Regions from separate parts of the Homo sapiens genome. Here all the other regions are linked to region 4. The links come from fine-mapping of genetic effects on gene expression. A gene starts in region 4. Each other region holds a variant in brackets. All regions are shown on one strand. Distances are from middle to middle.

Region 1 (5,107 bases), 350 kb before region 4:
TCACATTGTTCCTTATCCTTAGATATAACTTGCTGGGTGATGTCCCACACTTGTTGGGTGATGTTGGTGGTTTTAAAGATGGGCTACCAGGCTGGGTGTGGTGGCTCACGCCTGTAATCCTAGCACTTTAGGAGACCAAGGCGGGCGGATCTCCTAAGGTCAGGAGCTCGAGACAAGCGTGGCCAACGTGGTGAAACCCTATCTCTGCTACAAATACAAAAATTAGCTGGGCATGGTGGTGCATGGCTGTAATCCCAGCTACCAGGGAGGTTGAGGCAGGAGAATCGCTGGAACCCGGGAGGCAGAGGCTGCAGTGAGCCGAGATCGCGCCACTGCACTCCAGCCTGGGTGACAGAGTGAAACTCCATCTCAAAAAAATAAATAAAATAAAATGAAGATGGGCTGCCTACATAAGGAACTCAGGGAAATCACTGCTTTAAAAGCTTTCTTGACAAATGATGCCAGAGAAAATTTAATTTTATGCTGAATGCAAAGCCACAAACATAAATGGATAGTGTAGGGTTTCCTGTTCTAAGATTTCAGGAATAAAATAGGAGAAGCCAAGTTCTGTCCTTGTCCCATGCAACATTATAAATTAGGAGTGCATTTTGATAGTCCCAAAACTATACCTTAATTTAAGAAAATGGAATACAAGCAATAAATATAATACTATAAATACATACAATAATTATGATATTATAAATATGACTCTATAAAAAAGACAGTCCCTGTTTCTTCCCTTCTTATTTGTAAGACATCGTCATCTTCCAAGCTGTCTTAATTAACTGCCACCCATAAGCATGACTGTTGTCACAGATGGGTGCTATTCAAAACGGTTAGCAATTCATTTACACACGCCCCCAAAGGAGAAAACACGATTCATTCAGCTGAAAGAACTGCCTGTGAAAGCAGAGTGGAATTCTCAGTGGTGGAAAATATAAAATAGATTGTCCCGAAATAGACTGCCACTTGGAAAGTGTCTTTTGCTTCTGGTGGTGGTAAGAGCATAGTAAGAGCGTGGCCTACTCCAATGGAAATTGTTCCACACCATGCCACGACAACTAAGCGTGACCACTCTGTCACTTCAGAAAAAGAACTGGTTAAGTACGTTATGCAGCATTTCTAAAAATGTGGGTCCGCAGAACTCTACTTTCTCTGAATGCTCATAGATGTATTTGAAATAGTGTTGTGGTCAAATAACATGACCAGAAATGCTCTTAGTGTAGGCTATCGTAGAGTGTTTAATTTCATTACCAATGAAATCCTTTCTTCTCACTGAGGAGCTCCTGACACTAGTGTTTCTAGAAACTGGCTTTAGGAAACATTGGCTTCAGAGGTTATTTTAACTCAGAAGTATTCCCATGCACATGCACAAATATCTGCATGCATATATTAAATATGAATTTGGAAAAACTGGGCCAGTGTTCTCTGTGCCCTGTAATTTACTACATAGTTTACTGTGAATTATACATATATAATTATAATTATATATGTATAAATACACATATATATACACTTAAGTATTTATTATAAAATTGAACTATTCATTTCATGGTGAAATCTTTAGTTAAGAATCGCTACACAGCACATTGTCTCTGCCCTCAAGACCTCAGTTGGGTGGGAGCAAAAACAGACATGGGAAAAAACAGTTTCAATGTATGTGGAGAAGATGTTTTTGAGCTACTGCTAAAGAATGTTCTGGGAGACCAAAAGAGAAGAAATTTACTTCATTTTCGGACAGACTAAGTATTTCATTTGTTGGACATACTTCATTTGATAACAGTGGATCTTGGAGGAGACAAATGCTTGAACTGAGTACTGAAGAATAAACAGGGGTTAGTAATTCAAAGAACAAAGTTAAACGGGGCTTGCGTTCTAGGCAAAGACACATCCTGAGGCATAGAAGAGCATGTCAAATAATAGGTGGGAAGCTTTTTTTTTTTTTTTTTGAGACGGAGTTTCACTCTTGTTGCCTAGGCTGGAGTGCAATGGCACAATCTCAGCTCACTGCAA[C/A]CTCCGCCTCCTGGGTTCAAGTGATTCTCTTGCCTCAGCCTCCCAAGTAGCTGGGATTACAGGCCTGTGCCACCACGCCCGGCTAATTTTTGTATTTTTAGTAGAAACGGGGTTTCTCCATGTTGGTCAGGCTGGTCTTGAACTCCTGACCTCAGGTGATCTGCCCGCTTCAGGCTCCCAAAGTGCTGGGATTACAGGCGTGAGCCACCGCGCCTGGCTGGGAAGCTTTATTAGGAAGGAAGACGGGAAGATGAAACTGAAAGACACTGAGAGACCAGGTCATGGAAATAGTGTAGACTCTCTGGTTCTCAAACATCATGGCACATTAGAATCAACCAGAACTTGTGATTCAATAAGGCCAAATGAGGAGTAGGATGATCTGTATTTTGGATAAGTTCTTTAAGTGATTTTATGTGTCCAGCCAGCATGAAGGCCTTTGGGAACCACTGCTATAAGATCACTGAAGGGTTTTGAGTCATTGAATGGGTCACTTTGCATCTTAAAAAGAAAACCTCATTAATTCAAAATATTGTGACTACTAATACATGCTCATTACAGAGAGAAATGCACAGACAAAATAAAAAGAGGACAGGGCTCTGTCTTTTGCTTTTTTTTTTTAGATGGAGTTTTACTCTTGTTGCCCAGGCTGGATTGCAATGGCGTGATCTCAGCTCACTGCAACCTCCGCCTCCTGGGTTCAAGCAATTCTCCTGCCTTAGCCTCCTGAGTAGCTGGGATAACAGGTGCCTGCCACCGTGCCCGGCTAATTGTTTTGTATTTTTAGTAGAGACGGGGTTTCACCATGTTGGCCAGGCTGGTCTTGAACTCCTGTCCTCAAGTGATCCGCCCGCCTCGGCCTCCCAAAGTACTGGGACTACAGGCGTGAGCCACCACGCCCGGCTGACAGGGCCCTGTCTTTTATCCTTCAAATCCACTTCCCAAAGGCAACCAGTCTTAATAGTTTGATTTAAACAATTACGTATATAGTCTATACATAGGCATGCAAACAGAACTAAACCAAAATAAGTACATCATGTGCATTGTTCTAATTATACCACATATATTAATTCCCTTAATTTTTGTAACAACCTGGTGGGATAGGGGTTAGTATTACTGCCAATTGACAGATGGGAAAATGAGGACATAAGTTTTCTAAGGTGACAACAGCTAGTAAGTGATGAATCCTGGATTCGAACCCTTGCTTTGTGGCTCCATTACTCTCTATTGCCTCTCATATTATTATGCAATTATTTTCTTTACTTAAAAATATACTTTGCATCCTTAATAGATTAAACATAGAATTTCCATGTGACCCAGCAATTCCATGCCTATGTATATACCCCAAAGAATTGAAAACAGTTACTCAAACAAATACACGCACATGCATGGTTATAGAAGCTCTATTCACAACAGCCAGGAGGTAGAAATAACACAAACGTCCATGGACAGATGAAGAGATTAACAAAATGTGTATGTCCGTATGATGAAATATTATTTTAGCTATAAGAAAGAATAAAATACAGACACATGCTATAATACGGATGAATCTGAAGAAAATGATAGTAAATTTAAAAAGTCAGACATGAAAGGCCACATATTGTATAATTCAACTTACATGAAATGTCCAAAATAGAGAAACAGGGACAAAAAGCAGACTAGCAGTTACCAGAAGCTGAGGGAAACAGTAATGAGAAATGATGCTTAAAACAGGGCTACCTTCTGGGGCACTGCAAATGTTCTGGAACTAGACAGTGGTGAAGACTGCACAACAGTGTGAATGTGTTAGACGTCACTGAGTTCTCTATTTTAAAATGATTTAAGTGGTGAATTTCATGTAATGTGTGTGTATTTTACCAATATCGCTATTTTTAAGCAAAGAATCCAGTGGCATTTAGTATATTCATAATACTGTACAATGAAAGCCTAGAACATAGTAGGTGCTTAATAAAGATAAATATATATTTTTATAAATTTATGTTTTAATAGAATTATGTGCTCTTTAAAAAGATTCAGATAATACAAAAAGTTTTAATTATAATAACTATGTAAGTACAATAGCTAACACATTCATTGTTTATTTTTTTTTATTTTTATTTTTACTTTGAGACAGGTCTCACTCTGTTGCCCAGGCTGGAGAGCAGTGGCACAATCTCGGCCGAGTGCAGCCTCTAACTCCCGGGCTCAAGCAAGCGTTCCACCTTGGCTTCCCAAGTAGCTGGGACTACAAGCATAGGCCATGACACTCAGCTACTTTTGTTTATATTTTGTAGAGATGGAGTCTTACTATGTTGCCCAGGCTGGTTTCAAACTCTTGGGCTCAAGCAATCCACCTGCTTTGGCCTCCCAAAATGTTGAGATTACAGGTGTGAGCCACTGTGTCCAGCCTCATTCATTGTTTACAAGTTCTAGATACTGCTAAGGTTCTATGAATATTAATATGTTTTATCCTCATAACTGCTCTATGAAATGTGTTATTCTCATCCCTGATTTATAGATGATACAACAGAGGCTCAGAAAGGCTAGGTAACTTGACTAACGTCACATAGCTCATAAGTGGCAGAGCCAGAAATACAAACCATACAGCTTGTCTCAGCATTACTAATATCATCAAGTGTCACCTTCTCTCATGACATGAGACGTCCTTTCCTGCTCATATTTGGGGAGGGGTGGAGATTGTCTTCCATGCACCCCTGAGTCCTCCACTTGAGCCCTGCTCCTCTGTGGCATCTATTCCGTACCACAGTGGGTGACCTTTCATTGCATTCCCATTCTGGCCTGGAATGCACTGGTGTTGTGACCCTCACTTCACAGGTCCCTGATGGCAGACTGATGGGTCATGTTGGGAATTGGAGGTGGTGACCTGACACAAAGTTGGTTAAAGGGTCAGAGGAATTAAAGGGAACTGCAACATATGAGGGAAAGAATTGAAAACTTCGCCTTTAGTGTGAATTTCCCCTGAGTCCATGACATGAACACTCTTGTAGGTCTCTTATAGGAACCCTGAGTTCCTGACTTCCACATCCATAGGACTCTGCTCTTGCCTGAGAATACCTTCTTCTCTGAGCCTTTGTTCTGTGACTTTGCACTGTCCCTT
Region 2 (5,107 bases), 130 kb before region 4:
GTACATTATGCTCCTACAGTGGAAGAAACTGCAAAGTTATATGTCAGGAAATGTTCATATAGGCAGTGCATGAAGAATTGGGCAAATAGTGTCCCTAACACAAATATATACCATGTGTTATCAATTAAGTGAAATACATGTAAGAAAATTTAGATAAAATACCATTAGATTCTGATGCTAATTTTTTATTGTTATTTTTTATTTTCTTAGAGATCTCATTATGTTACCCAGGCTGGTCTCAAACTCCTGGGCTCAAGCAATCCTTCTACCTTGGCCTCTCAAAGTGCTGCAGTTACAGATGTGAGCCACTGTGCCTGGCCTGATGTTAATTTATAATGCTTTCCTATGAATAAACTGTTAAAACACTTTAGTCAATGTATCCAAATCTGATTGGTGTTATTCAGAATTATTTTGCTTCTCTGTGTATAGATTCTTCTAATTCTTTTCTGTGTTCCTCATGCTTCCAAAGCTATACTTGTCTGCCTTGAATGGTATTACTCAATTAAAATTCTCAGACTCTATATCTGCAATTGTTCTGCCACTTTAAAGATACTATGTCTTTAAAGTTGCTGTGAAAAAGCCTCCAGTTCATTCTGCAGAATACCCATCAGTTATATATTTACGTGACTGAGACGTTATTTCTCTCCTGTGTAATTTTAGTTGCCACATATTGAGAACCTTCTAATGGAAGAATCTACACTAAATCCTTTATATCTGTTTGTCATCTCCTTTAAACCTTACAACAATACTGCAGTATTGATTGAGCAATCCCCATTATGTAAACAAAACTGAACTCAGGAAGATTAAATACATTGCTTAAGGATGAAATGGTAATAAGATCAGAATTCACATAGTTTGGTTTGGCTATGAAGCCAATGGTTTTTCTATTATTTTTCACTTATCTTTTTTTTTTTCATCATGTCCCGTCCTCTTACCCATATACTTGAGTTTTTAGATTTTTCTCTGAGATGTAGTAAAGAATGTTTGGGTGGCAAGTGTTAGTGCCATCTCTTTTTATTCTCTTGAGAGCCTGTGAGTGTGGAAACACGTGTTATTATTATCCTCTGTAAAGCTGCAGGGACTAGTACTTTGAAGTGAAGAGATTTACAGGGACTGGGATGCAGACTCTGTATATTTTTCTCTTCTCTTATTTCAATTACTATGTTTAATCATGGTAATCGAAGGTGTGAGAGTCTATAATTTTGCTACTGGAACTAGCCAGTGAACTTGGACCTAAAGAACTATATTTCTTTATACAGTTCTGGAAGAGTTTGGGAATAATAATAGCATGGGTGTTCTTCACATTGCAATAACATAGAAATAAGATGGCAGAGGATAGTTACTATGCAGCCATACGGCCCACTAGGTTCTAGAGTATTGGGTTTATAAAAGGATTTTTGAATAACTTGGGACTCTTGTTACTAGTGGTCGTTTACCTAACTTCTTGGACAATTTAAGTTAAAGAATAACCCAAAAAGAAGTCAAACTAATTTCAATTTATCTAAATAACCTTGAAGAAAGCCAATTGAAATTTCTTCCCTTCCATTGTCCTCACTTTCCAATGAATATGTTTTACTGTAAAGATATGGTCCAAAAACATGTTTATTTTTCTTCATGTTGTTTTCATATGCCATTCGTGTAGCAAGCACTGTTACGCCATGGCAGTTACTTTGATGTGTGGAAACAGGATGTAAGCTATTATGTTCTTTGCAATGGCTTCCCATTCATCTGTGTCTCAAGCATTAGGAGTTTCAAAAAACCCTATGAGTCCTGATTTGGGTTAGTTTTATCTTCATGAAAGTTAGAAAATAGCATTTCTTTTCTGGATATTATTTGTCTTTATCCTGAATTCTGCAAAACATGTTATAACAAGAATTGTTGGCTATTAATATATGTTACTGGTTTTAAAGTTTTTTATTTATTATTAACAAGAATTGTTGGCTATTGATATATGTTAGTGGTTTTAAAGTTTTTTATTTATTATTTATCTTATTTGATTGTGTTTTAGAGACAGAGTCTCACTCTGTTGCCCAGGCTGGAGTGCAGTGGCATGATCACAGCGCACTGCAGCCTTGAACTCCTTAGGCTCAAGCACTTCACCTGCCTCAGCCTCCTGAGTATCTGGGACTATAGGTGTGAGCCACCAAACGTGTCTAATTCTTGTTTACAATTTATTTCTGTAGAGAAAGG[A/G]TCTTACTATGTTGCCCAGGCCAGTCTGGAACTCCTGGCCTTGGGCAATCCTCCCACCTCGGCCTCCCAAAGTGCTGGGGACCACTGTGCCCAGTCTATTTTCTCCTTTAAATAGTGTTTTTTTTCCTCCTTTAAAAAAAACCAAACCTTTAGATGAGGAGGAAAAGGAAAGGAAACATGATGTTTATGGAGTGATTGTTCAGCATCCAGTCTTACGCTGGGTGCTTTACTTAGTTTATCGCAATGTTAGTTCCATATTACAGATGAAGAAACAATGGCATTTTGATAATGCAAACTGCATAGATCTCTAATTTAGCTTTTTTGGTTGTCAGGCTTTGATGGGTTCAAAATTTGATAGGAAATTTTGTTTGTTTCCTTTCATATTAAAACACTGTTCTTCTACCAGATCCCTAGAAGACTGTGGCCAGCAGGTATTAGCGTCAGGAGGTGAGTATTAGTTTAAATATTGACCTCTGTTATGTTAATAACATGGTGGCAGCATTTGTAGGCCGCCAATGCACACATTCCACTACCTAAAACAAGAGAATTTGCCTTTGACACCCTTCCTGAAACGAGTCCTGAAATTCATTCTGATTAAACCACCATAAGCCTTATGTGCAGCCCAAACTAGTAATTGTGATTAGGGGTGAGGCGGGGGTGAAATGCACTACTCCATTTAACATAGCCCAAGTCAAGAATCCCATCCTTGGAGTTGAGACAGAGTCAACTTTTCAGAATGACGTGGATCTTGAAATGGAAGTGGCAGGCTTTGAGGAAGGCAGACAGACATGGGAGTCTGGGAGCCAGGCAAACCCAGCTGTCCACAACATCATTTATTCTTTCAAAGACGCATCTAGAGAGCACGCTTGCTAAGAACGGTGGGAGAAACTGACAAGAATTAGACATAGTTCCTGTCCAGGCTGCCTATAATTTATTATGGAGAGGGAGGAGCTAAATTAATAACTATAATCAAAACCTGAAATGCTGTGACATAAAAGTGGCAACTACCTATTAGAGTGAGAAGGAGAATTACTTTTTGGTACAAATAATGGAAAATTTTCAAAGGGGGTGAAAGATTTCTTAGAGCTAGAAGGGGTACTTAGGAATTTTTTTTAACTCTGTGTGATATGATGCTGAGAGAAACTGGGACACAGGGAGAGTAAGACTTGTTAGGGAATAAGATAGACATAAAGATGAGGAGAGGTAATGCCCAGGGTTTTAGTAGAAAATATAGGGCTCCAAAGAACAAAAATTACCCAATTTCACTGTTTTACTTGGGATCAGTTTTTCCAATAAGTGTGGTCAAAAAATCAGAAGTGTGTGGACAAAAGTATAATTTCTTGTTGGCTGAAAAATGGTAACTTCTATATTCTTTGTTGAGTTAGCTGTTTGCTCAGGGAACCAGTGTATTGCAAAGTATATTTTCTGTCAGCTTATCTGATTCCTTCTTAAGAATTTCTATCTCTGAATAAAGTTTCAACTGTATTTGTTTACTTATATCTCTTTTGCTTTAAAAGAAGACACAAAATACCTGAGCTTTCAGCTAAGTTTTCAACTCAAATTCTTTGTTTCTAGGTATTAAGGGGAGGGTTTTCCTTTACAGATTGGAGATGGATAAAGTGCCTGCCAAGGGGCTGAGGGTGTTGTGAGCATTTAAAAGGGCTCAGCTCTATGTAAGCTTCCCAGGAAGATAGGTGAGAGGTCCTCTATCTAAGAGCCTCAAATTTACAGGATGGATATGATCAAAAGAGAATCAAGCCATGTCCAAACCATGGGTGCATCTGAGGACAGATAGGCCTTGCTAATTATGTGTGTCTTCCACTAAGGTGAAAATTTGCTTCATTTCCTAAATACATAATAGACACTATGAGGGAATGTGGTTCAGAAAATATGCATGAGGGCTTGCGAGAAGAAGAATGAAAAGCTGTTTTCAAAGCTACAAAAGGAAAGCTCAGTTTCTTTCTTCTACATTTAAAGTAGGTGGCCTAAAACTGAACCAATAAAAGATAATTGCAAATATATTTCTTATTGAAATCTCCCTTTCCCCCAAAGGTTAAGAGGATTGAGGACATTTCTGAAAAAGGAGGAGTAGATAGTCAAAATCTAGGTGGAGGTTGTGTATTTGCTGATTGATGCATTTCAGACCATAATGGAGAAGACCACTTTGTTCATTAACAAACGTTTCCATATCAGTGCCTGCCTTTTGTGGCTCATGCTGTCCATCCCTGACATTTTCTGCCCCCTCTTTCTTTCTCTCACCCCCCTTGTTGTGTACTAAATCCTTTCTGCCTTTAAGTGTCACTCCAAAACCAGCTTCCTGCATGAAGCCTTCTCAGATTCCCCCTTCTCCCAGTTTGGCTTGTTCTCCCACAACAATGCTCTGATGCACTATCTTATTTTACCTTCATGAATTTCTACAACATGCATCTGTCTCCTTCACTAAATTATAAGCTCCTTGAGGGCAGGACTGCTCTTCTTTTACTGTGTGTCCCTCCTTCGTTACTGAACAATCTTTATACATCTCTTGGGCAAACACATATATCTTAAATCTGATTGTTTACATTGCTCATGAGTATAATTGTTAAATATAATTGTGTGATAAATGTACCAGGAAGTGGATCCCCTGGTCTAATTGCCTTGCGAAGTATTCTTTCTTCTCTCTGGGGTGAAATAAGTCAATTATATTGAAAGTTAGAATTGTTAAAAAGTTTATAACTAGTAAGGGTGATTAGAAGCCCTAAATTCAGCAAATGTTCAGCAAAGTATTTGGTGTTTACTAGGTATCTAGTATCATGCTAGTGATGAACTAAATAGTCACTCTCAGCACCCTCATGGGGACTATAGTCTAGTGAGGAAAATGGTCAATTCATATGCGAATTAGCAAATAGATTCACAGATAGACATTGTATAAGTGCTA
Region 3 (5,107 bases), 21 kb after region 4:
TTACCTTTAAGATAAATTCCTACTAGCTTTGAACTTCTGCCACTTAAAAATGTAGGAGACTAGTGACTGGGAAGGGATAGGGAGAGATTTGTTAAAGATGTGAACCAAAAGTATCTGAGACAGGTTGCAATCAATTTAGAAAGTTTATTTTGCCAAGGTTAAGGACACGCCCATGACACAGCCTCAGGAGGCCCTGATGACATGTTTCCAAGGTGGTCGGGGCACAGCTTGATTTTATACATTTTAGGGAGACATGAGACATCAATCAATATGTGTAATACGTACATTGGTTCTTCCTGGAGAGGTGGGACAACTTGAAGCAGGGTTGCTTCCAGGTCTTAGGTAGATAAGAGACAATCAATAGCATTCTTCTGAGTCTCTGATGAGGCTTTTACTGAATACACGATTTACATGTGAGATGACATAGAGGAATAGTCACTTATGCCTTAGTCTTGCTTAGTGAATCTGCGTTTTTACATAAACAACTGAGCAGAGGAAGCCATCAGATGTGCATTTGTGTCTGGTGAGCAGCGGGATGACTTTTGGCTCTGTCTGTCCTCTGTCCCCTACCAGTGAAGATAAGCTATCAATTATCAATTTACATTGCCAGGGTGAAATCCAACAGAACTGTTTTAGGGTAAAGATCTTGAGGCCCACAAGGAATTTCCTTGTGGACAAATTATGAGGGAGGTATGTAGCTTTTTTTTTTTTAATCTTTGTAGCAATCTTATTTAGGAATAAAATGAGAGGCACGTTTGCCTGATGGAGTTCCCAGCTTGACTTTTCCCTTTGGCTTAGTGATTTTGGGGTCCAAGAGATTTATTTTTCTAAGGATACAAATTTACCCTGCTCTGGTTATTATACATTTTCTTTATTGAAACATCACTATGTCCCCCATGAATATATGCAATTATTTTTCAATAAAAAGCAAAAATAAAAACCCCCAAACAATAAAAATGTATTGTTAACAGGAGATTTATAAGAGTAACATTCCTTTGCCCAGGGACCATGGAGAGGGAAGATTTCATTTGACTTGGGTAGTGACCACCATTTTAGTCCATCCATTTCAGGAGCCTGAAGGAAACAGTTTATCATTTTATTTTGTAGTGTGACTTCGAAGAGTTTGTCTCTTTTATGACAAGTGGCTTAAGCTATATTCTAGTTGTATCTCAAGGAAGTAAACACAATCCTCCCTCTGAAGAAACCGAACCACAGACTGACACCGAACCTAACGAACGATCTGAGGATCAACCTGAGGTCGAAGCCCAGGTTACACCTGGAATGATGAAGAACAAACAAGACAGGTATAGCTCAAGACCAGGAATTGTGTTACTTGCAATGTGTTATTGGGTAATGAAGCGTAGTGTAGGCACCTCAGTACCTAAGGGCAAATGTTTTTATGTTAAAGGCATAAGTATTTCTTCCAGTCAACCTAACATACTGTATATTCAGAAGAGCTGTGTGCCAGGTGAAGTGTCAGATACCTGGCATTGGAAAAAGTAGTTGGCTTGTGGGTTGTAGGGTAGTAAGAATTTACAGATGACAGTGTAGGTTTGAAAGAAAAGTTTTGTTAGATAGAAAGAGCACTGCAGAAGAGTGCAGCGGGGCTCCTCAGTGAGAGAGGACTGAGCTCGCCATGGTGGATTTTTGTTTAGGGATATTTATGGACCTTAAAGCTGGAGCTTAAGGGTAATTTGGACCTTATTAGCCACACAGGTCATGATAAATAATTGCACTTGTAGACATGTTGGTGCCTTGATGTCAGCAAGGGTTGCACAATGAGTTTGAACATGCATGCATTCCGGAGATGTATAGAAATTCTAGTTACTTATAACTTTTTTTTTAAGCCTGGTACCAGATGCCAGCTTTAAATAATAGGGAAGTCTAGTTACTTCTAAATTCCTCAGATAAGGAGTTTTGCCTCTGGATAGTCAGCTTGGTGGCCCTCAGGTGATCTTTGCTCCCCTCACTGTGACTGCCCTGAAAGTTTATGTCAAGAACACTAGAAAGGGAGGCCTTTTCCCTGTTTGTCTTCCTAGAGCTGGGCATACCAGTCTGGCCACAAGGGCTGGGGCTTGAAGGGTGTATTGGAACCATGTATAATCCCTGCCAACTCAGTCTCCTCTCCCATCTCCCCACCTTCCCCTTCCACCTTCCCGGTGCCCTAAAAACATGAAACATGCACTTTTACTTTAGATGGTTTGTGGTTACAAATTACTGAGAACAAAACGGTTGTATATTTTTTGTTGATGGATTTTAAAATATTAGAAAATGGATATAAATAATTTGTAGAATGTTGGTTTTATGCGCTGCTGTTTGCGCCTGTTATTCCTCTGAAGACTCAGAGAATGGAGAGTGTAACAAAGCAGTTGTCAGGCTGCACCGGAAAGAAAGTCAGGTGAGCAAGAACATACTTAGAGTATCTGAGCCTTGAGGCTTCCTGGGATGTGTCTCCCCGTGCTTGGCAGCCCATCTCCATTGCATTTTCTGGCTGAGACTATCCAGAATGTCCCTTGTTGGTCCTTCTTGACTTATTAATGAATCATAGTGGCTTTTCTTGGGTGCCTACCTCTGTTGGCTCCTAGTGATGCCATATTTTTAGGAAGTGGGAGATCCTAATATCATTAATTCCAAGTTGTACGCAGGATAAAGGAACTCATAAGGTAAATCCTGCTGGCAAGGAGCTTTTTAAACAGTAGCAGTTACTTTCAGGGTTTTAAGGGAAAATAATAATGAGTGGGCTGAGGGAAGGTTTGTTGGGTAGGGTGTGTTAAGTTTAAAAAGATACCAGATTTTATCCTAGAAATTTTGAGCCATTCAAAAAACAAAAAGCGTTCTA[T/C]GAAGCACTCATTAATGTGACGAGTGAAGTCATCATTCCATGGGGCTATTGTTTAGGTAGTAAACCTCCATTACAACCAACTTTGAGAAGCTCCAATTGTCCAATACTCGCATGACACCATGGACAATTTAGGCATGTTAATTGGCATGTCAGAAGGAAATGCCAGCAGCTCTCCCTCCAGAACAAGGGCAAGCACTATAGGGGCCAGATCAGAGTGAAATGAAATGTGTACACCTTGCTCTGGCACAGTCTACAGTATTTCCTTTCTAAACTTAGAGTCCCCATGTGCCTTTGGCCCATGTTTATCCCAAGCTGGCCACAGCAGACAGCATGGGACAGTGTGGAGCATGCTTGTTTGGTGTGCTCGGGCTCAGAAACTGATACTCAAAATATGGCGCTTTGACATGCTGAACTGAAAAAGCCTCACAATCTCTCTGACTTGCCCCAGCACTCCCGGCCAGCAGTCTCTCTCAAAGCACAGGATGAAGCTGAATTTCTTTTATCTGCCTAAGATCCTCAGATCCGACAGGAACAATTATTTTTCTTCCTCTCCCTATAAGACCAAGAATGTAACCACATCTGAACGGAGATAGTGTACAAGTTAATTTCTGTGCGTTGGTCCATTCATTCTCCCTCGTCATCCTTTACTGTCCTTCAACAGAATTCTTCTCCCTGCTCCCATTACCTGTTTTGCCAGATGGTCTATAACAGGGGTGTCCAATCTTTTGGCTTCCCTGGGGCACACTGGAAGAAGAAGAATTGTCTTGGGCCACACATAAAATACACTAACACTAATGATAGCTGATGAACTTAAAAAAAAAAAAAGAACTCGCAAAAAATATATATCATAATGTTTTTAAAAGTTTACCAATTTGAGCCGGGTGCGGTGGCTCATGCTTGTAATCCCAGCACTTTGGAGGGCCGAGACAGGCAGATCATGAGGTCAGGAGATCGAGACCAGCCTGATCAACATGGTGAAACCCAGTCTCGACTAAAAACACAAAAATTAGCTGGGTGTGGTGGTGCATGCCTGTAGTTCCAGCTACTTGGGAGACTGAGACAGGAGAATCGCTTGAACCTGGGAGGTAGAGATTGCAGTGAGTCAAGATCGAGCCACTGCACTCCAGCCTGGGTGACAGAGTGAGACTCCATCTCAAAAAAAAAAAAAAAAAAAAGTTTACCAATTTGTGTTGGGCCACATTCAAAGCCTTCCTGGGCCTCATGCAGCCAGTGGGCTGCAGGTTGGACAAGCTTGGTCTATAGGCTTCTGAACCTCATTGCAGGGTGGGTACTCACTCTGTGGTTCTCTCTGTGTACATGTTAATCAAATTTGTCTGCTTTTTCTCCAACTAATATACTTTTTGTCTGTTGATGCCCGTTGGTTTTTCAGTAAAACTTGAGAGGACAGAGGGGAAGCTTTCCCCTGACTTCTATAATGCTTGTTCTTATTTTCACAGCTCTTGCTCTGGAGGGAGGGCCTGATAGGCACTGTCACTTCCATGTGACATCTTTCAAGTAGGTCCAGAATCTAAAGGAATAAGGACAAAAAACTCTCATGCGTAATTTATTCAGTTGTTCACTTTCACTCTTTATTGCCCCCTCTCCCCTATCTCCCAGCCTGCTCACTCTCCTCTCTGGGTGGTGGGGATGGAGAGGGTGAGACAGGAGAGAAGTTAAAAGCAGAGCAATTGAACTGGGAGTGATTGGTGACCCCTCTGCGTACAGAGCAGCGGAGTCCCAGAGCTTTATTGGCTGGTTATTCCTGTGGAGACAAACACTCACAGCTTATGAATTCACATGCTGTGGGGAAACTCTCTCCATGCCATCGATGGTCTGCCTGCTCCAGTGGCTGCAGAAGGGTGGGGGAAGAGCCAGGGAAACAGGGCAGAGGTACCCATGTTTGTCATTCACATTCCAGCTTCTTTCATGATGGCTTTTTATTACATTATTTACATGTCTGTCTCTTTAATCAGCCTGTTTTAAGAAATCAAAGGATAGTGTAATTTATCTTTGCTTTCCAGTCTTTCTACAGATCAGGAAGGTGTGGTTCCATTAGCTACATTGCTCAGAGTCACACAGGTAGTAACTGGCAGAGTCTTCTCATTCATTCACTTATTCTGTTATGTGTTGATTCATTCATCTAGTATTTATTAAAGACCTACTATATGCCAAATCCTAGAGATACAAAGATGGGGAAGAATTAGATGATGACCTCTGAGCTCACTTTCAGTTTAAGTCTTTATGACAGAGTGAAGGTGACATTTCCAA
Region 4 (5,107 bases):
CTTTGAAAATAGCAGATGGTTTTAGACCCTTGAGGAATCGCCACACTGTCTTCCACAATGGTTGAAATAATTACACTCCCACCAACCGTGTAAAAGCGTTCCTATTTCTCCACATCCTCTCCAGCATCTGTTGTTTCCTGACTATTTTTAATGATCGCCATTCTAACTAGTGTGAGATGGTATCTCATTGTGGTTTCGATTTGCATTTCTCTAATGACCAGTGATGAAAAACTTTTGTTCATGTGTTTGTTGGCCTCACAAATATCTTCTTTTGAGAAGTGTCTGTTCATATCCTTTGCCCACTTTTGGATGGGGCTGTTTGTTTTTTTCTTGTAAATTTGTTTAAGTTCCTTGTAGATTCTGGATATTAGCCCTTTGTCAGATAGATGGATTGCAAGAATTTTCCCCCATTCTCTAGGTTGCCTGTTTACTCTGATGATAGTTTCTTTGGCTGTGCAGAGGCTCTTTAATTAGATCCCATTTGTCAATTTTGGCTTTTGTTACCATTTGACCCAGCAATCCCAGTACTGGGTATATATCCAAAGGATTATAAATCATTCTATTATAAAGACACATGCACATGTATGTTTATTGGAGCACTATTCACAATAGCAAAGACTTGGAACCAACCCAAATGCCCATCAACGATAGATTGGATAAAGAAAATGTGGCACATATATACCATGGAATACTATGTAGCCATAAAAAACGACGAGTTCATGTTTTTTGCAGGGACATGGATGAAGCTGGAAACCATCATTCTCAGCAAACTAACACAAGAACAGAAAACCAAACACCGCATGTTCTCACTCATAAGTGGAAGTTAAACAATGAGAACACGTGGGCATAGGGAGGGAAACATCACACACTGGGGCCTGTCAGGGGGTGGGGGGCTAGGGGAGGGATAGCATTAGGGGAAATACCTAATGTAGATGACAGGTTGATGGGTGCAGCAAACCACCATGGTATGTGTATATCTATGTAACAAACCTGCACTTTCTGCACATGTATCACAGAACTTAAAGTATAATAAAAAAAAAAAAAGGAAAGAAAATTGCAGATGGTGAAGTGAAGGAGTACTACATGTCCTGTCTTGATAGGATATGATCCTGGTCAAAAATCCTTCTGTAGGTAGCCGTGCTCATCTATTAGGTCCACTCCAGGGATGAGGATCCCTACAAAAAGGTTCATTGTGTCCCTCTCTACTCTACAGTTGCTTTCTGTATCTCAGCCTGTGGATTAATCAGAAACTATTGTGAAAAATTATTTCCAGATGCTGCAAGTGGGAGGGAGGAAGGAAAGTAAAGAGAAAAAGAACGAAAGAGAAAGAAAGAAAAAGAAGAGGAAGAAGAAGAAGAGGAAGAAGAAGAGGAAGAAGAAGAAGAAGAAGAAGAAGAAGAAGAAGAAGGAGACGGAGGAGACGGAGGAGACGGAGGAGACGGAGGAGGAGGAGGAGAAGGAGGGGAAGAGGAAGGAGAAGAGGAAGGAGAAGAGGAAGGAGAAGGAGAAGAAGAAGAAGACGAAGGAGACGAAGGACACGGAGGAGACGGAGGAGACAGAGGAGACAGAGGAGGAGGAGGAGAAGGAGGGGAAGAGGAAGGAGAAGAGGAAGGAGAAGAGGAAGGAGAAGTGGAAGGAGAAGAGGAAGGAGAAGGAGGAGGAGGAGAAGAAGAGGAAGAGGAAGAGGAAGAAGAAGAAAGAAGAAGAAGAAAGAAGAAGAAGAAGGAGAAAGAAGAAGGAGAAGGAGAAGGAGATGGAGGAGACGGAGGAGGAGGAGAAGGAGGGGAAGAGGAAGGAGAAGAGGAAGGAGAAGGAGAAGGAGAAGAAGAAGAAGAAGAAGGAGATGAAGGAGATGGAGGAGACGGAGGAGACGGAGGAGGAGGAGGAGAAGGAGGGGAAGGGGAAGGAGAAGAGGAAGGAGAAGTGGAAGGAGAAGAGGAAGGAGAAGAGGAAGGAGAAGGAGAAGGAGGAGGAGAAGAAGAGGAAGAGGAAGAAGAAGAAGAAAGAAGGAGAAGAAGAAGAAGAGGAAGAAGAAGAAGAAAGAAGAGGAAGAAGAAGAAAGAAGAGGAAGAGGAAGAGGAAGAAGAGGAAGAGGAAGAAGAAGAGGAAGAAGAAGAAGAGGAAGAGGAGGAAGAAGAGGAGGAGGAGGAGGAGGAAGAGGAGGAAGAGGAGGAGGAGGAGGAAGAGGGAGAGGAAGAAGAGGAAGAGGAAGAGGAAGAAGAAGAGAAAGAAGAAGAAGAAAAAGAAGAAGGAAGAAGAAGAAAGAAGAAGAAGAAAAGAAGAAGAAAAGAAGAAGAAGAAGAAAAGAAGAAGAAAAGAAGAAGGAAGACGAAGAAGAAGAGGAAGAGGAAGAGAGAAGAAAGAAGAAGAAGAAGAAGAAGAAGAGAAGAAGAAGAAGAAGAAGAAGAAGAAGAAGAAGAAGAAGAAGAAGGAAGAAGAAGAAGAAGAAGAAGAAGAAGAAGAAGAAGAACAAGAAGAAGAAGAAGAAGAAGAAGAAGAAGAAGAAGAAGAAGAAGAAGAAGAAGAAGAAGAAGAAGAACAAGAAGAACAAGAAGAACCAAACCAGGGTAGATGAAGACAAAGTTAAAAAGAAAGAAAAGGCTGGTGCTGGCAGAGAGCCTTCTGCTCCGATTTGAGGTGTATGCATTTTATGCTGTAAAGCGTGGCCAGTCACAGGAGGATTCAAAGGCGAGGAGAGATATGATCAAATCTGCACTTGGGAAAGCGCACCTTGGTGCGCATCTGGGGATAGAGGAACGTAGGGATGGGAGGATGGGGGATGGGAGTTTGGGGATGAGGCAGCTGAAGAACAGAGTCTTGTGATGGTGGAACCAGGACTTCGTTGTTCCTTCATTGTGTGGGCAGAAGAGGTGGAGGATTTTAGGCGCCACCTGGTCTTGTCCCCACTGCCCAGGTATAGCTGCTGTCTGGAGCAGGGGCCTCGAGACGCCGCTCAAGTCTCACGGGCAGATGGGTTGGACAAAACATTGCCCCCCTTCTTCTTCCCAGACAGGCAGGGAATCCCTCTTCTTCCTTTTGCTGAATCAGCTGGAGAAGAAAGCCCAGCAGGAGGCCTGCTAGCCTCAGCCTCGGGCCCTACCAGGGTCCTAGGTACTGGAATGGAACTTCGCCGAGGTCACCGCTCAAACGGCCACAACGAGGGAGCCGATTTAGATCCTCTGGGCCTGTTCCTTCCTTTTCTTTAAACGTCCCAGTCTAGCTTAGAGGAGGACCTGTTTTGTGTAAGGCTTGCCGGAGCAACCAGCACCTTTCCTGGAATACAGTCTTGTTTGTGGCTTTTCCTTTGTTGTACGCTAGCGTGCACTATCGCCCGCACGCTGACTGACCCCTGTTCTACACCGCCCCTGATACCACTGAATAGGGAGTTTGAGAAGTTTATGTCGTGCCCCAGAAAACACTAGTGGCCTTGTTCTCAAGATTAAATATCCTTAGAGCAGCCAGATCTGAAGAGGGACCCCAGAAAGATCCACGGGCATGTTCATTTGTTTGCAATTGATAATATAGGAAACACTTTCTAATATTTCAGGAAAACAAAACCTTTAAAAAAACCAGACGACGTGTAACTCCTAACATTCTTACCTTGCTTCAGGACTGTTGGGAGGATAAGATAGTGTGGCAGCTATAAGCATTTAGCATAGAGCCTAGCATACAATAGTCCTTCCATGACATTAGCTTCTCTCTCCCCAGCAAAGATGACACTGCATAATCCAATGTACAGTGGGGAAATTTTTCACTAGTACATTAAGATGTTATTTGCAGTTAGAAAGAATGAATACTGTAATCCCAGCACTCTGGGAGGCTGAGGTGGGAGGATCACGGGTCAGGAGGTTGAGACCATCCTGGTTAACACGGTGAAATTCTGTATCTACTAAAAATACAAAAAAAATTAGCCCGCCGTGGTGGCGGGTGCCTGTAGTCACAGGTACTCTGGAGGCTGAGGCAGGAGAATCGCTTGAACCCAGGAGACGGAGGTTGCAGTGAGCCCAGATTGTGCCACTGCACTCCAGTCTGGCAACAGAGTGAGACTATGTCTCAAAAAAAAAAAAAAAAAAAAAGAACAATGAATAAGACCTAGTATTTGCTAGCACAAACAGGTGACTGCAGTCAAAAAATCTAAATTGTACATTTTAAAATAACTAAAAGAGTATAATTGGATTGTTTGTAACACAAAGGATAAATGCTTGAGGTGATGGATACCCCATTTACCCTGATGTGATTATTATGCATGGCATGCCTGTATCAAAATATCTCAGATTTAAATACACAAATATTTAAGTACATAAATACAGAGATACATAAATATATACACCTACTATGTACCCACAAAAATTAAAAATTGTTTTAAAAGATGTTATTTGCATGCATAAAGAAAATGTTATTTAAATTTCCTACTTAAAAATTTTTCTTTCTTTTTCCTATGATAGTAGATAAATGGCAAGCAAAAAACGAGAAGTCCAGTTACAGGTGGGTCTGACATATCAACAATTCTTTATCTGGTGCACTAGTGCTTGAATACCTTTTACAGTGCCTTCCACTTTGCAGACAGTCATCAATAATCAAAGCCTGTGGGATGAGATGTTGCAGAACAAAGGCTTAACAGGTATAAGGACTCCCCGGCTGTCTGGCCACCTGGGGTTTGACCCGGAGCTCCTCCTGGCACCCTGTCCCTCTAGAGTCCCCACTTTGACCAAGAAATCCTGCAGTGCCTTTGCCCTGGCCATGGCTCCAGATTGGGATAACTGCTATCCTAGATTGGTAGACTTTGTTATTTCATAAATATCATCATCTTCTAGTGATTGATGTTTACCAAGCCTGGTGTGGACCTTGCAGAGCAATGCAACCTTTATTCAGAAAATTGAAAAATGAACTGAACGAAGACGAAATTCTGCATTTTGCTGTCGTAAGAATTTTGTTTTCATTAAACCACTGTTTTCACATTATATTAAGTTTTTAAGTATCCTCTAATACTTTAAGTATTGTCTTAATTTAAACAACCTGTCAGTTCTTCAAAATAGATAGTCTTTACTTGGCAGTTTTACTATATATTTAATTCTACTAGATCTGAGAATGAATATGATTTTTATCC
Region 5 (5,107 bases), 130 kb before region 4:
CCTGTACTCCCAGCTACTCAGGAGGCTGAGGCAGGAGAATGGCGTGAACCCGGAAGGCGGAGCTTGCAGTGAGCTGAGATTGCGCCACTGCACTCCAGGCTGGGCAAAAGCCAGACTCCGTCTCAAAAAAAAAAAAAAAAAAGAGAAATTAAGAAAAGGGTTCAGAACCCTCTCTGGGATACATTAAATTTGGGGAATTAAATTTTTAGTGCAGTTTTATTTTTCTCTTACATTGCAATCTGATGAACTGCTTTTCAAACATTTATTGGCTTTAGAGAACTTGAGTAGGCCTGTTTTAATTACTTCTCCAAGTCCTCTTCTAGTATTCTAATTAACTGCTTTTCAATACCCTGATAATTGGTCATAGAGATACAAACAATACAGTTGAAAAACAAGGACCAATTGTCTAGGGGAATCCACAGCTCCGAAGGAGAGCAGGGATGGAGCAGTGAAGAAATGTCACTTTTTCTCTTTTTTCATAGGAAAGGGACTTCTGTGTTGCTGTGACCCTGTGATGTGCTGCAGAACATTTAGGCTTCAGAGTCAAACAGCCTGGGTCTCCAATTTCAGGGCTGTCATTTGTTAGTTGAGTGAACCCAGAAAGTTGCTTAACTTTTCCGAGCTTCATTTCTTCAACTAATATTTGGAATAAAAGTACCCTTGTCCTGGATTTCTTGGGAGGATTATAAGTATCATATAAGAAATTTCCATCTTAGTGCCAGGAACTGAAGAGGCACTCAGGACCTGGTGACAAAAGTTATCAATACATTATGCTACAATAGATGTGCCCGTTATTGGTGAAAAGGCATAAACCTAGAGGTACCTGGGGCTGAAGACAGAGTAAGGGTTATCTTGGACAGATTGGCCTGGTTAATGTCTCAGTAGCTTTGATTTAAGAAAGGTCTTCTCTGAACGGCTTTCCCTTTGGTGGTGTGGTGTTTTCCATCCATAGATGTTGGTTACTTCTACAGATGAAATGCCCATTAGAAACATGCCCAACGTGTCCTAAAATTATTTTCCATTCTTGGTCCTCCCTAGATTTTTTGTTGGCGTGGCAGCTGAACTTGTTGGCAGATTATATTGGGCTCCAAGACAAAGGTTGACAATTTCTCCACGTCTCTGTTTGGGTGTAAAGTGGAGACACAATTTTTAGAACTTCTGGGAGAGTCTTCTCTCACTGTCAGCCTAGACTGTGGAGGCCTGAAAGTATGGTGTCTGTCTCAGGGGGCAATGGGTTACTTGAAGGATATATTTTATCCACAGCCTTTTTTGTCTTGTTCATTTCAGAATTTTGCCTACAAGTATATTTCACCTACAGTGAATAAAGATTAATGGTTGATTGAAGTCATCTGGATAACATATTGGAAAACTTCTTGACAGGAATAGTTTAAATTAGAAAGCAGAAATAAACTTTTGACTTTAAGGAAATATTTCATGTCTGTCAACATAAAGCAACTTGGCACTATTAATCTATATCCACAAATACTTTCATGTCATATGACCACTTTTTTATTGGACACCACCTTCTGGAAAAATCTAAAATATGTAAAACACTAAATTCACAAAAGTGATTGTCCTAGAGTTATTTATAACAATAAGTTAGAAACATAACATCATTGAAAATTTGATTAAATCACTTTGGAGACATCCACTTGATGAGATGTTATACGGTCGTATAAAAGTGCACGGAAACAGGTCAGGCATGCTGGCTTGCATCTGCAGTCCCAGCTACTTGGGAGGTTGAGGCAGGAGGATGACTTGAGGCCAGGAGCTTGAGACCAGCCTAAGCACTATAGTAAGGTTCCCTCTCTTAAAAAAAAAAAAAAGCCGGGCACAGTAGCTCACCCCTCTAATCCCAGCACTTTGGGAGGCCAAGGTGGGCAGATCACTTGAGGTCAGGAGTTCGAGACTAGCCTGGCCAACATGGTGAAACCCCGTCTCTACTAAAAATACAAAAATTAGCTGAGCATGGTTGCAGGTGCCTGTAATCCCAGCTGCTTGGGAGGTTGATGCAGGAAAATTGCTTGAACCCAGGAGGTGGAGGTTGCAGTGAGCCAACTTATGCCACTGCACTCCAGCCTGGGTGACAGAGCCAGACTCCATCTCAAAAAAAAAAAAAAAAAAGTTCAGAAACTCCAAGGCTAAGTACTTTGGTATTATACATTACTAGCAAAAAACATGGTTTGAAAATTGAGGTGCAATATTATCACTATCTAACAATCTAACACAGATGCATAGAAAGATATTAGCAGAAAATACACTAATATTTTAAAAAGTGGAAAAATTCTGTTCTAATTTTTCTTTTTCCTTTCCTTCCTTCCTTCCTTCCTTCCTTCCTTCCTTCCTTCCTTCCTTCCTTCCTTCCTTCTTTCTTTCTTTCTTTTTTTTTTTTGACAGAGTCTCAGTCTGTTGCCCAGGTTGGAGTACAGTGGTATCTTGTACCACTTGGCTCATTATAACCTCTGCCTCCTGGGTTCAAGTGATTCTCTTGCCTCAGCATCCTGAGTAGCTGGGACTACAGGAGTGTGTTACCACACCTGGCTAATTTTTGTATTTTTAGTACAGACGGGATTTCACCATGTTGGCCATGCTCATCTTGAGCTCCTAACCTCAGGTGATCCACCCACCTCGGCCTCCCAAAGTGCCTGGATTATAGACATGAGCCACCGTGCCTGGCCTAAGAGTCCAGAAATGCCTAATTTTTCTTTAGTGCCTTTTAGTTGCCTCTTTTTTTATTAATATAAAAAATACCAGAAACACTGAGAAAATAAAAAGAAATAAAACCCTAGAAGTTACTAGGAAGAAAAAAAAAAAGTGAATGGCACGGAAGATGAGCAAGCAGATAGTGAAATGCCTGAAGTGGACATGGTGAGGGAGGGAGGAAACTATGATACTGGGTGAAGCACAGAGTGAATC[T/C]TGTGAAATGGTGATGTGAAAAGCAGCCTCCTTTAGTGATGTCCTATTCTTGCTCTATCACATTTTAGTGCTTCATGGGCCATAAGGAGGCTTGGAGGCAAGGAAGTTACCAGCATTGTTGGATACCACGTTTTGCCTGTCTGAAGGCCTCGTCCCTTACATGTCCGTATAGACATGTTTCTCTGTCTTTTGAGGTTGGGTGGATTAAGTAGGCCAGATGGTGTGTCAAAGGTGGCAACAAGGCTGTAGTAGCACTGGACACTCAGGAATGCCAGGAACACAGTCCCCCAGATTTAACAGTTTCTGAGAATAAAGCACAGTTCCTGGACAATGAAAGATTTCTTTGAAGCAAAATTTCTGGTAAGGAGATGGACATTCACAAAGATCAGAATTCATAGCACATTTCAATATCTGCAGACCTACAGATCTATGCAAGGCTCTCCCTGGGAATGGAAAGAACTCACTGACAGTTCCTTATTTTCGAGAACATGGGTGGCAGCAGGGGTGCCCTGGGTGCCTTGCAGAGCAGTGTGGCTCACTCTACACAGACACAAAGCCTCTGAGTTTCAGCTCCCACTTCCCTTGTAGGTAACCAGAACTTGCATCCTCACCTTTAGAGAGTCAGCAGCAATGGTGAACTCCTCAAGTGAGGAGAGAAAGGATAGCTCAAATCCAGAAGCCTGCTCTTTGGTGAAAAATGATGTCTTTGATGAGTGAGGCTGCAGATCTAACTTTACTTGAAACTGCCTAAAAAATATATATATACATTTTTTTTTGCTATTAAAAAAACCATAGAAAACCCAAGAGAGTCCTTTCAAACTTCAGAAATAGGATGTACAGAGGAGGAGGACTGTGAGAGAGAGTTCGAATATGAACAAAGCAGGGGGCAATTTTTATATGTTACTTAGGCATATAACCTTCTGCAGTGAATTTCTTTAGAGTTGATATTTCTTTTTTATTGTTTCCCACACTGCTTCAGATATTTTCAGACAGATTTTTTTGGTTTTGGTTTTTTAGCTACACTGAGCTCGTCCTTAATGTGGGAGCTGCCATCCCAGAATCTTTTCTCAATATATTTTGGATGAACTGCTGCTTGAGTTTCCCTGAGTGAGTGATTAAAGTGACTGTTCCTATTTGTTTTCTGCAAACACAACAAACTATAATTCGTTCTAAGGAGAGCTCAAAGGCAGGAAGCCATTTGTCTGCTGACAACCTTTTCTCAGAACAACCTGTGATGCCTCTTCTAGCTGGGGCTGGACATCCATCCTGGCTCCCAACTGGTGTCCTTGAGGTGGGGCCTATGGGGCTGGACTTAAAGCATAGTTCTCTTGATTAGAAGCTGCCGTCTGTCCTGCTGGGCCTCTGGAGTCTGCCTTTAGTAGTGCTGTGTCACAGGAATAGTCCCAGACTGAGACACAGAACCTGGAATTTAGCCAGTGACAAGCCGTGCTAGCTTTCAAAGGTCGCTGTGTGGGCCTCGGTGTCTTCCTTAGTTAAATGGGTGCACTGGATGCTATAATCTCTAGGTTTCACTCTGACACTAAGAATTTGTGATTTTTTCTTCTGATTCCTGGTCCAAGGGTTCCTTCTCTCCTGGAGATGGAGACACCATGACCACTCTCATGGATCTTTTCTTCTTGGAAGAAGGGGTGAATATAGAGAATGACAAAGAAAAAGTGAGATGACAGTGATCAGTGTTATGAAGAACATGGCTTGGGTAGGGCTGGTTCCTTGTATTGAGTGGTCAAGAATCAAGAAGGTGAATCTGCAGTCCCATCTGTTCAAGGTGCAGCAGAAAGAAGTGAAGCCAGGGATGGAGCGGGGAGCAAGGAGGAATGAGCGGCCACATCAGAGGGACCAGGCCTGCGAACTTGAGCAGGGTGAGGCATCCAGGGCTCCTGGTTCCTGGCACGGCATCCTCCTAGTCCTCTAACCAGGGAGTTTCCTGCTCTGCCCTTGATATGAATGAATGAAGGCAGTCACCGGCAGCATTGATTCTCTGTCAATAATTCTCCCCCTCCTCCCTCATCCCCAAGGCTCAGCTCAGACGCAATTTCTTTCTCTCTTTTTTTGCACAATGGCTTTACTGAAATATAATTCACCAACTATAAAAGTCATTCTTTTTTCAAAGGACAACTTTATGGTTGGTGAACCACAATTCAGTGGTTTTTAGTGTAGTCACAGAGTGATA

Which allele goes with the higher level. Alleles are on the strand shown, and positions count from the first base shown. SD is a standard deviation of normalised expression in the study named. Not every link is listed here.
With allele A in place of C in region 1, the expression in thyroid of the gene that starts at base 2,783 in region 4 is higher (large effect, 1.3 SD a copy in GTEx).

Evidence for each region. PIP is the estimated chance that this variant, and not a neighbour inherited with it, causes the effect.
Region 1: its variant is fine-mapped to the expression of NME8 in thyroid (GTEx, PIP 0.96).
Region 2: its variant is fine-mapped to the expression of NME8 in whole blood (TOPMed, PIP above 0.99). The same link has a PIP of 0.9 or more in monocytes.
Region 3: its variant is fine-mapped to the expression of NME8 in whole blood (TOPMed, PIP 0.98).
Region 5: its variant is fine-mapped to the expression of NME8 in whole blood (INTERVAL, PIP above 0.99). The same link has a PIP of 0.9 or more in blood mononuclear cells.

The regions. Positions count from the first base shown.
Region 1 is chr7:37,496,920-37,502,026 of GRCh38, forward strand. No RefSeq gene overlaps it. Among named protein-coding and RNA genes, the nearest start is that of ELMO1, 51 kb to the left of the region's middle. The variant C/A (reference allele first, on the strand shown) is at 2,014.
Region 2 is chr7:37,713,132-37,718,238 of GRCh38, forward strand. The region is part of intron 2 of GPR141 (G protein-coupled receptor 141); the gene reads left to right. Among named protein-coding and RNA genes, the nearest start is that of GPR141, 32 kb to the left of the region's middle. The variant A/G (reference allele first, on the strand shown) is at 2,191.
Region 3 is chr7:37,866,595-37,871,701 of GRCh38, forward strand. NME8 (NME/NM23 family member 8) reads left to right here. Exons shown (of 18, transcript NM_016616.5): 11 at 1,108-1,304. Among named protein-coding and RNA genes, the nearest start is that of NME8, 21 kb to the left of the region's middle. The variant T/C (reference allele first, on the strand shown) is at 2,840.
Region 4 is chr7:37,845,815-37,850,921 of GRCh38, forward strand. It overlaps NME8 (NME/NM23 family member 8), which reads left to right and starts at 2,783. Exons shown (of 18, transcript NM_016616.5): 1 at 2,783-2,914; 2 at 3,010-3,242; 3 at 4,446-4,485; 4 at 4,564-4,621; 5 at 4,815-4,921. The coding sequence starts at 4,453.
Region 5 is chr7:37,720,615-37,725,721 of GRCh38, forward strand. The region is part of intron 2 of GPR141 (G protein-coupled receptor 141); the gene reads left to right. Among named protein-coding and RNA genes, the nearest start is that of GPR141, 39 kb to the left of the region's middle. The variant T/C (reference allele first, on the strand shown) is at 2,917.